Regions from separate parts of the Homo sapiens genome. Here region 1 is linked to region 2. A link means that fine-mapping ties the variant in region 2 to the plasma level of a protein whose gene starts in the linked region. Region 2 holds a variant in brackets. A gene starts in the other region. All regions are shown on their reverse strands.

Region 1 (5,396 bases), not on the chromosome of region 2:
CCACAGTGTAGCAGGCTAATCCTCCAAACTACTAAACCAATCTAAGAATAACAAACTCTGAATTCTAGATCTGTGGCCACTACTATTCGCGAGTCTTTTAAAAGAACTAGGGGTAGTAAGTGGAAAATGCTTAAGGATACATATGATGTGTGTTGCCCTGAAAAAGTGAAATTTAATGTGGTCGTGTTTCTAACTATTGAGAAATACCTCTAAGGATTTGTGGTATAAATTGTTTTCATTACTAAAGCATAAAATTAAATGAAAGAATTAGAAAATACCTTCTGGTTATTTTAGCATTAAGTATATGATTAAAGCCTGAGATTACTGATTGGTATAATGAATTGCAGTAGGTATTAATCTCTGGCATGTTTATGGGTTTCAATATTAACCACATCTGGTCTGAGCAAAATGAAAAAGCATCATTTGTCTTGATGTCTCACTTCTCATCGTTCCTTATTCTGGAGATTCTTTGTCATCAGTTGGACCTCCCACCTAACTACCAGAGCTGGCCCCTCAGAGGCCACTGCTTTTGCAGAACCTTGTTTTCGTCCTTCTGTGAAAAGCTGGATATGTCCTAAGGAATCATTATTGACATTGTGGCTCTTAAATCCCTTAAAGTGACCTAAAGGCCATAAGGTACACGGTGAAATAGATTCCTTTTTAAAATAGGAACAGGATTATTTTAGTTCTGTCTCTGTCCCTAAGATTTTAGGTTTGAATGCTTTCTTTCAGGAAAGGTTAATATCTATTTTGCCACTTAAACGAACATACCAGCCCACCAACTGTCCACAGAGATGCACATATGATCTCCAGATTCATAGCCACAGTTTGTCCTTCGGGTTGGATCAGCTAATCTGCCTGGAGGAGAGAGGATGCACAGTCGTATTTATTATACGCATTTTGAAACTGGCTGTAACTATTGCTTAACCACATAGATTTTGTTTGTAGATACAAAAGCATTTATTTCTGAATGATATGTGTTTGTATTCCCATCATTCTTTTTTTATCTTTTATTTTTTAGTTTCTAATTTCTTTCCTTTTCCTTAACAACACAGTTTTCTACTTTTGAGTTATAGGTCCTAAATATTATTTACTTTTGTAAGGATACTCTCTTCTATTTCCTCCTCTACCTTCTAATCGAAACTATGAAGCAATATGCATACAGATGAAAAGAGATGGTCGAGAGTCAAAACAAACCCCTGCTCTACCACTTACTAGCTTGACTTTATCTAAATAACCTCTAATGCCTTAGTTTTCTCATCTATGACATGGGGATAATAATATTAACTACATTATAAGGTTGTGATGTGAGGTGAGAAAAAGCACCAAAGGTGTTTCACCTGTAATATGCATTATGTAAATATTAGAAAATAATCATTGTTTTTCTTCCAAATGAAATTGCTCTTTTCTTAACCTCTCTCTCACACACAATAATTTCTTTATTGGCTGTGTCATCAGCAGGGAGTGGGCAACAGGCACCACTCTTTCTCATGAGCTTCTATCAACCAGAACAAAAGTATCTTTCAATTCATGTATATTTTATCCCAAAATGTAACTTCTGTCTATACACTGTAAGGTACCTTATTTCCAAGAGGAAGCAAACATTTTACAGAGAAAGATCTTCATGAACAATGTGATGCTTCTTTATAACCTCATATCATAATTAGAACTTCAAGAAATTCAAACTAATTGGACATCACTTTGTATATCCCCTTGACTGTTTTGTTCATCTCATTGCTTAGAAAGGAGTGTGGCACTTAGTAGAACTTCAACAAATATTTGTGAAATGCTCAATAGATGAGATGTGATGTCTTTTCACAGTTGATAACTATGTCTTATGCCTCATTGAAGCTTCTAATAATAACACACAACCCACAAAAGAAGGATTTGTGGATAAGGAGAAGGATAGGTAGAAAAACAATGATTATAAGGGAAAAGAGAACAAGATAAAGAATCAATTTTTAAAAACATAGTAGGGTATATACAGAGTCCAATTTCCCAAATACTTCATAGGTCTATCGGTAGATCATTACAATGAAAACAAGAGTCATTCTTACCTGTCCTATATTGCCAGCCATACTGCAGAGGCAACCCCCATAAAATATTCTGTTCATTATCTGGTGCAAATTTTGCAAAATACCTGGCTGTCTGATTCAATATGATTTTATACATCCCCATTCTCTCAAGGTATACCCAGGGATTAATAATGTACATGCTGTTCTCCACCCTGTAGTCACTGAGCTGACCAGGACTCTCCTTCCACAGAGGGGGCTCTGTCTCTGAGAGATTGGAAGTCCCTGCTAAGGAAGCAGAAAAGGAACCAACTAGTACACAAACCCAGGAAGGAAGAAAAGCCATTGTGCCAGAGCTGGGGATTGCGATCGTAGCAGGGCTTTTATTGGAGAATGGAAGAGGAAGTCATGATATTTGCTAACCTCACAGCATATCAACACTTTGCTTTTTTGTTTTCCTGGATAGGGTGAAAATGTAGAAGAAATTGATGTATTAGCTAACATTTAGGACAATTAAATTTCCCAGACTCTTCAGCGTCAGAATACTGTGTCAGAACCTAAATACAAGGTTAGGCTTGTTTATAATGTATTAGATAAAACTATTTATCAACAAAAACCTTCCAGAAGTTTCCCAGGCTGCATTGTGATTACAAAATACATCACAAATGGCTTTAGAATGCTTCCCTCTAATAAAAATACTTTAACATATTTCATGGAAAATATTAAATAGCTGGAGATGGAAATACTAGGATTTATAATAATCTTCAAATGTGTACTAAAAATATGTGTGATCCAGTTGTAATACAATGTTCTGCTTCAAGAAAGAAGCTTAAAGAATATCTAATTAGCTCAATTCAATAATGAAAGTCAGCCTGCTGGAACAAAACCTGCTAGTTAATTCTTAATATCTATTTTTCATTCTTTATTAGTAAAAGAATCGTAGAATTTTAGCTGGGAATATGGTCTCCCAGAATTAAGGCTAAATTTCCAATTTGCTTTACACAAGCAACCATGTGACTAAGTGTGGACCACAGAGACATAAATAGAAATAGTATCCACAATTTCTGGAACATGTCCTAAAATGAAGGGCACATGTCAATTCCTCTTCCCTTCCTCCATGTTGTGGCTTGGATTATTGATGTGATGATTGAAATTCAATTCTGACCCCTAAACGCAAGGCACTATCTTAGGGATGACAGAATGCAAAGCTGGAGGTGGCTTGAGTCCCAGAGGGCTGTGGAGCCATGAGATGTCCTTGAATTCCTATATCTGAGTTTTACCTGAGCAAGAAACACCCCACTCTCTTGTTTCAACCACTGTTATTGAAGTTTTATTCACACATAGTAAAAATTCTTGCCTTATTAATAGGTAATGCATCTGAAAATCTCAATTATTTACACAATTAGATGCATATGCTTCATAGTAGGTCACTGGTACTGCTTGTTCCTGGCATGGTCCACATTAAACATCCTACAGCATGATTCCACTCTTTTTTCCTGTCATATTATTTACCCAATAGCCATTTGATAATTAATAAATTTTCCAGATATATTAATATAAAAGGGAATGGTAGGAATTGCTACTATAGATCAAGAATGCAATCATTCTGGAAATTTTAAAAGTATATTAAATGTTTATAAGAATATATACGTGAATATGTACTGTAAGATGTGTTACTCTAAAACCAAATGCCAGATTGTTCTCAATGGAGAAATCTTAAGAGCACTCCTTTAAGGTCAGAAATAAAATAAAAATGACCACCAGCATTATAATCATTTAACTTTTCTTTGAGGATACCAAACAATAAAGTTAGTAAAGATAAATAAATTAGAGGTATAAAATTGAGAATGAAGATGTGCTAGTACTTTCCCTTATAGATGATATGACAGTGTTCAGAAAACATAAGAGAATAAACTAGAAGGGTAACTACAAAGAAAAAATTTACTAAAGTGGTTAAGAACTAAATTACTATATATAAATCAATAGCTTTTATATATAAAAGCAATTGGGAAATATAATAGGTGAAAATGGAAGAAAAGTCCTCATTTTATTGTCAACAAAAGGGCCAACATATAAATGTATAATTATGGTAGATCTGTTTGGAAAAATCTCTAAGACTACAAAAAAATTGAACAGTTTTAAAGTCATACAATGTTTCTCAATAGACTCAACATTATCAACATGTTAATTTATAAATTTGTACAATAAATGAGAAATATTAACAGGATTTTTAGATGTGCTTTCTGGAAAGATTTTTAGGACTGAGGCTAAAATTTGCCTAAAAAATAAATTATGAAGAAAATACAAAAACTCTAATAATAATGGATAATAATAGTGAAAGGAAACTTTCCATAACAGATATTAGAAGATTATTATAAGCCCTCAAAAATTAAAGTAACACACCACAGTCATTGATGTAATAGTGTGACCAGTTACAGGTTAAATAAAACAGAAATATTGAACTATATTAGAGAAAGATTTTAAATGAAGACCAAAATACAAATGAGAATTTAAAGAGGAGCTATACTGGAACTAGATCTAGACATTGCTTCTATGTCCACTAGTGGAGTAGTTATTGGAATCCCATATACAGTGGGAAAAAAGTAAGAGCACATCTTGATGGAAAGATATTTGTTAAGGATATAAAAGAAATAATGTCAATAGTAGAATCTGGATCTTCTCATGCAAAAATTATTAATAGAAGAGGAAATAAGTTAGACGCTTACAAATAAACCTCAAATGAACATCAAACATATCACGGCATGCACTGATAGTTACATAACGTGATATTCACTCTTCTCTTATTTCTTTGTAAGAACACCCTTAATCCTTAGCACAACAGAGTCTTCCTGGAATAGAGATTATATTATTTAGTCTCACTGCTAGATGTAGCTACTTGATAAAGCTGTGGCCAAATTGTTAAGTTGCAGCTTTCAAGGAATCTCCTTTATACCTTGTCCTTTATTCTTTGTTATTTCTTCCTCTGCTGGCTGGAATGTAAATGTAACTAGAGACTGATGCTGTCTTAGATTATGAAGGAGCAAGAAAAGGTAGGAGAACAATAAAATAGAAGACTTTTGGTTTCTAGTCTCTACAGCTCTAGATTGTCTACTTCTGATTGCTGTCTCTATGAAAGAAATAAAATTTTAACTTAAGGCAATTTTTTTTTATGGATTTGTACTGCTTGGAGAACCTAATCTGAACAGACATTCTAATTTTGTCTTTCAACATTTCTGTGCCCATTTTTTCTTAACTATAAAGTAGAAATAGTTTTACTGCTCCTAAATCCACTAATTATAACTTCTTTTCAAGGTAAGTTTGTGATATTTGAAAAGATAATTAGTATTAGATACTGGATAGACAATTATATGTTTGAGTCACACA
Region 2 (5,396 bases):
ATGCATGTTTCCTCATGTGCTTGGTAAAACTTAGTGTTGATGAGGGGTGTCCACACTAAATGGTATTGATAGCTGGAGCATGTATTCTCAGGCAAGAAGAGAAATCCTGTTTGCCTGTAAGTGAATATATTTCCTAATAGTAAAATTTCCTTTAAATGTGTTTGTAATGCAATATTTTTAAAAAACCTGTTATCGCTGGTGACAGAGCAGGAGTATTGCCATCTTGGACAAGCACTGTCATTTTAAGTTCACCTTGATCAAAAACTGCCTAAATCCAAAGGTCATCAGCCTTCTGGCTAAGGTCAGCATGACCATAAACCACAAATAATATCTCTGACCAAAAAAATTCCAAACCTCTCCCCTACCAGAGGCATGCCAGACCCGAGATAATCTCCCCTCCACCCAGAGACAGTCTGACCCCAACATAAACTTCTCCCCCACACAGAAACATTTCAAGCTTGTGATAAACCCCCTCACTCTAAAACCAATGTATACTCTGTTGCTGCTTCTGAATCCTATAACCCCAAAGGGCCTAGCAAGGCCAACATCTCTGCCATTGGCTCCTCAAAACTCTGTCTTCCTCTGCTTTTGAATGTTCCAGTTTGAGAGTAAAATTTAGGTTGAAGACATCTCCCCAACCTGTCTCCTGCTGGTGAGATATTCCTCTACAGTTTAAAGCCCCCTCACGAATGCCCACTCATTTCATTTTATTTTTGTACTTAAATAAAATCAACTTTATATGTATTTTTTAAAATATTTTAATATTTTCAGCTTTATTAGGGTATAAGTGATAAATAGAAATTGTATATATTTAGGGTGTGCAACTTCCTATTTTGATTTATGTATACATTGTGAAATGCTCACCATAATCTAGCTAGTTAACATAGCCATCGCTTCACATAGTGACCTTTTTTTTGTATATGTGTGGTGAGAACACTCAAGATCTGTCCTTTTGGCAATTTCAAGTATTCAATACAATATTTTAAATTATGGTCTCCATGCTGTACTCGCCTACTCATTTTAGGCATGGTCAGGTGATATATAAACTCAAACTATTTCTAAATGTGATCTATTTCCTTTTCTACCATCTTATGGGTAACTATTTGTTGGAATATAATGCCTTCAAATTCCTTTAATATTCCATTTGCTTTCACGTTCTCAGGTGGTTTTTTTTAAATACTTTCTTTAAATATGTTTATGGAGTTCTCCACAGTGAGAGATAGGAAGTTGATAAATTCTAGTTCTAATAAAAGAGGCTTTATTCAAACATATTTTGTCCAACTTTTCCCCACTGTGGGTAATGCCACTTAGGAATTATTCTATCAGAACAGCATCTGACCTAAACCTTGACCTCATATATTACTCCTGCCCCTTGCTAGCCTTAGTAGATCTCATTTTCATTGTTTCTTTTCTATGAGAGCTGACTCTTCAAATATCTTGATTATGTTTCTCTCTCACACTGGAAATACCTGCATCTTTACCTACAACATATATGTGAATCTGAAAATCACGTAATACTATTTCGGCTAATTTTCCTGGTTTTCTCTTCTCAAATATGTGCCCACTTTATATAACTAGTTCCTGGGGAGGGGTCTCTTCTGTTAGTTTTCTGTTATTTGTTTACTTTTTTGGATGTTAGTAGTCACCCTTTCCAATCTAGAAACAAAAACCTCTCTTTTTCAGTTTCTTCTTTCTGAGTAATTAGATGCAGATTCCTTTGATGTGTGCCTAGCCCGGCCTCCAGATTCTCATTTTTCCTGACATTGCTCTCTAGTAAATTCCTCAACCTTTCTCCTAAGAAAGTCTTTCTTCCACAACAGTAACCAGGCCTTCTTGTTTTCCCTTTATTCTCCCATGACTTCCATTCTTATAGTTACATTGAAGAGTACCAAAAAACAAACTAAAATAAAGCAAAAACCGAAAACCCGCCTTTTTCTCCCAGAGACAGTATTCCGAGAATGAAACTTTTTATATTTCTGATTTCCTTTTGAGTTAGTGGTAATTTAATTGAGTTGTTTCAGCCCAAGAAAATAACATACATACTGTATTTAATAAAAAACCCAATTATTTTAAGTGGGTGAAGGTATAGATGAGTAATTTAGGAGTATTAATATAATCAGTAAATTGGAGAGACCATTTGGTGAGTGTGACTCACAGTGTGACAAGGCATATGAATGTAAGAAGTTTCCTTTCATCGAGTTTCCTTCGCCCTGGAAACTGATGCAGGTTAAGTCCTAACGATGCAGGGACTAATGATTTAGGGATTAAAATCTTATGCATTGATAGTCTGTAGCCTAGCATCTAGCTGCCATCCCCCTGTTTTTATTTTCTTAAACAAGCTTTATTTTTAGAACAATTTTAAATTTATAGAAAAATTGTGGAGCTAGCACATGGAGTTCCCATGTGTCTTGCACTCAGTTTCTCCTATCCTACAATACCATGGTATATTTGTTACAATTAATGAACCAATTGTCACATTATTATTAATTAAAGTTCATATCTTATTCAGGTTCCTTTAGTCGTGCCTCATGTATTTTTCTGTCCCAGGACCCCATCCTGGA[C/T]GGGGATTTATTTATTTTATTTAGATGTTGGGTCTCCTTAGGTTCCTCTTGGCTGTGACAGTTTCTCAGACTTTCCTTGCTTTTGATGACCTTGATGATTTAAAGAATACTGGTCAGGTATTTTGCAGCATGTCTCTTTGTGAAGATGTGTCTGATAATTTTCTCTTGATTAGACTGGAGTTATGGGATTTTTGATTAGAAAGACCTCAGAGGCAAAGTTAATGTGCCATTTTCATCATGTCACATCAGGAGTATATACTATCAACATAACTTGTCCCTTTCTATGTTGTCCTTCGTCACCCAGAGGAGACAGTGTTTGAAAGTCTTTTTCATTGTAAAGTTATTCTTTCCCTCCCTCTTTCCAAGTGTAAGGAGTGGAGAGTTATGTTCCACTTCCTTGAGTATTCATACAAATTCTTTAGAACTATTCTGCATGAGAGGTTCATCTCTTGTCTCTCCCCACTCCCCCCACTTTTTAATGAGCCCTTCCTCACTTTCTGGTTCTACAAGGGATTTCAGGTTCATCTTGTATATTTCCTGCCCCAGTCGTAGAATCAGCCATTTCTCTAAGGAGTCCTAGTTTCTTTTTTCAGATAGTGGCATCAGAAACCAAGATCTGGGTATGCTCATTGCTCTTGTGTGTCTTTGCTTCTAGTCCCTTAGTAACCTGTGTTTATGTACTTATACAGAAATATTTCTTTATGTAGAAATAATTGGTGTTTATATATATCCATATTAAGCTAAACTTAAGTTCATACTGACATCTCCGACTCTGATCCATTAGTACATGGATCATTCCATCTCCCCCTTGCTTATCTGCAAACTCCTGCTCCAACAGTGAGAAACTGCCTGCCATGATCTGCCATCCATTTATTAATTGTTTAATTTTGGTATACATGTGTAAAAACATCAGAATCGTTAACCAATAACTTTATGAGAAACAACTTTATTAACTATACTGCAGTACTTATGTGTAGTTTCTTTGACCTTTAGTTTTACAGACTCCACTTATTTTCAAAGTTATGTAGGCCAGCACTTTTGTCCCTACCGTCTTCAGTGAGAGTTTTTTATACTAACTGTGATACAATTAAGTTATATGGCCATTTTCACGATATTGATTCTTCCTACCCATGAGCATGGAATGTTCTTCCATTTGTTTCTATCTTCTTTTATTTCATTGAGCAGTGGTTTGTAGTTCTCTTTGAAGAGGTCCTTCACGTCCCTTGTAAGGTGGATTCCAAGGTATTTTATTCTCTTTGAAGCAATTGTGAATGGGAGTTCACTCATGATTTGGCTCTCTGTTTGTCTGTTATTGGTGTATAAGAATGCTTGTGATTTTTGTACATGGAACAAACTACTTTAAAGTTCATATGGAACCAAAAAAGAGCCCACATCACCAAGTCAATCCTAAGCCAAAAGAACAAAGTTGGAGGCATCACACTACCTGACTTCAAACTATACTACAAGGCTACAGTAACCAAAACAGCATGGTACTGGTACCAAAACAGAGCTATAGATCAATGGTACAGAACAGAGCCCTCAAAAATAATGCCACATATCTACAACTATCTGATCTTTGACAAACCTGAGAAAAACAAGCAATGGGAAAGGATTCCCTATTTAATAAATGGTGCTGGGAAAACTGGCTAGTCATATGTAGAAAGCTGAAACTGGATCCCTTCCTTACACCTTATACAAAAATCAATTCAAGATGGATTAAAGACTTAAACGTTAGACCTAAAACCATAAAAACCCTAGAAGAAAACCTAGGCATTACCATTCAGGACATAGGCATGGGCAAGGACTTCATGTCTAAAACACCAAAAGCAATGGCAACAAAAGACAAAATTGACAAATGGGATCTCATTAAACTCAAGAGCTTCTGCACAGCAAAAGAAACTACCATCAGCATGAACAGGCAACCCACAAAATGGGAGAAAATTTTCGCAACCTACTCATCTGACAAAGGGCTAATATCAAGAATCTACAATGAACTCAAACAAATTTACAAGAAAAAAACAAACAACCCCATCAAAAAGTGGGCGAAGGACATGAACAGACACTTCTCAAAAGAAGACATTTATGCAGCCAAAAACACATGAAAAAATGCTCACCATCACTGGCCATCAGAGAAATGCAAATCAAAACCACAGTGAGATATCATCTCACACCAGTTAGAATGGCAATCATTAAAAAGTCAGGAAACAACAGGTGCTGGAGAGGATGTGGAGAAATAGGAACACTTTTACACTGTTGGTGGGACTGTAAACTAGTTCAACCATTGTGGAAGTCAGTGTGGCGATTCCTCAGGGATCTAGAACTAGAAATACCATTTGACCCAGCCATCCCATTACTGGGTATATACCCAAAGGAATATAAATCATGCTGCTATAAAGACACATGCACACGTATGTTTACTGTGGCACTATTCACAATAGCGAAGACTTGGAACCAATCCAAATGTCCAACAATGATAGACTAGATTAAGAAAATGTGGCACATATACACGATGGAATACTATGTGGCCATAAAAAATGATGAGTTCATGTCCTTTGTTGGGACATGGATGAAATTGGAAATCATCATTCTCAGTAAACTATTGCAAGAACAAAAAACCAAACACCGCATATTCTCACTCATAGGTGGGAACTGAACAATGAGAACACATGGACACAGGAAGGGGAACATCACACTCTGGGGACTGTTGTGGGGTGGGGGGAGGGGGGAGGGATAGCATCGGGAGATATACCTAATGCTAGATGACAAGTTAGTGGGTGCAGCGCACCAGCATGTCGCATGTATACATATGTAACTAACCTGAACATTGTGCACATG

Which allele goes with the higher level. Positions count from the first base shown, and alleles are read on the strand shown. Strength reflects both the effect of a copy and how common the allele is.
In carriers of allele T in region 2, the plasma level of the protein whose gene starts at base 2,370 in region 1 tends to be higher than with C alone (strong association).

The links. PIP is the posterior inclusion probability: the model's chance that the variant is causal. The UK Biobank Pharma Proteomics Project read protein levels with antibody pairs (Olink). The fine-mapping took linkage between variants from a reference panel, not from the people measured, so its PIPs are less certain.
Region 1: it holds the start of C6orf58, and the variant in region 2 is fine-mapped to the plasma level of the C6orf58 protein (UK Biobank, PIP above 0.99).

Annotation. Positions count from the first base shown.
Region 1 is chr6:127,574,148-127,579,543 of GRCh38, reverse strand. C6orf58 (chromosome 6 open reading frame 58) reads right to left here and starts at 2,370. Exons shown (of 6, transcript NM_001010905.3): 1 at 2,058-2,370; 2 at 772-858. The coding sequence starts at 2,358.
Region 2 is chr12:11,212,642-11,218,037 of GRCh38, reverse strand. All of the region lies in intron 1 of LOC107987435 (a long non-coding RNA gene), which reads right to left. Among named protein-coding and RNA genes, the nearest start is that of TAS2R42, 28 kb to the right of the region's middle. The variant C/T (reference allele first, on the strand shown) is at 2,562.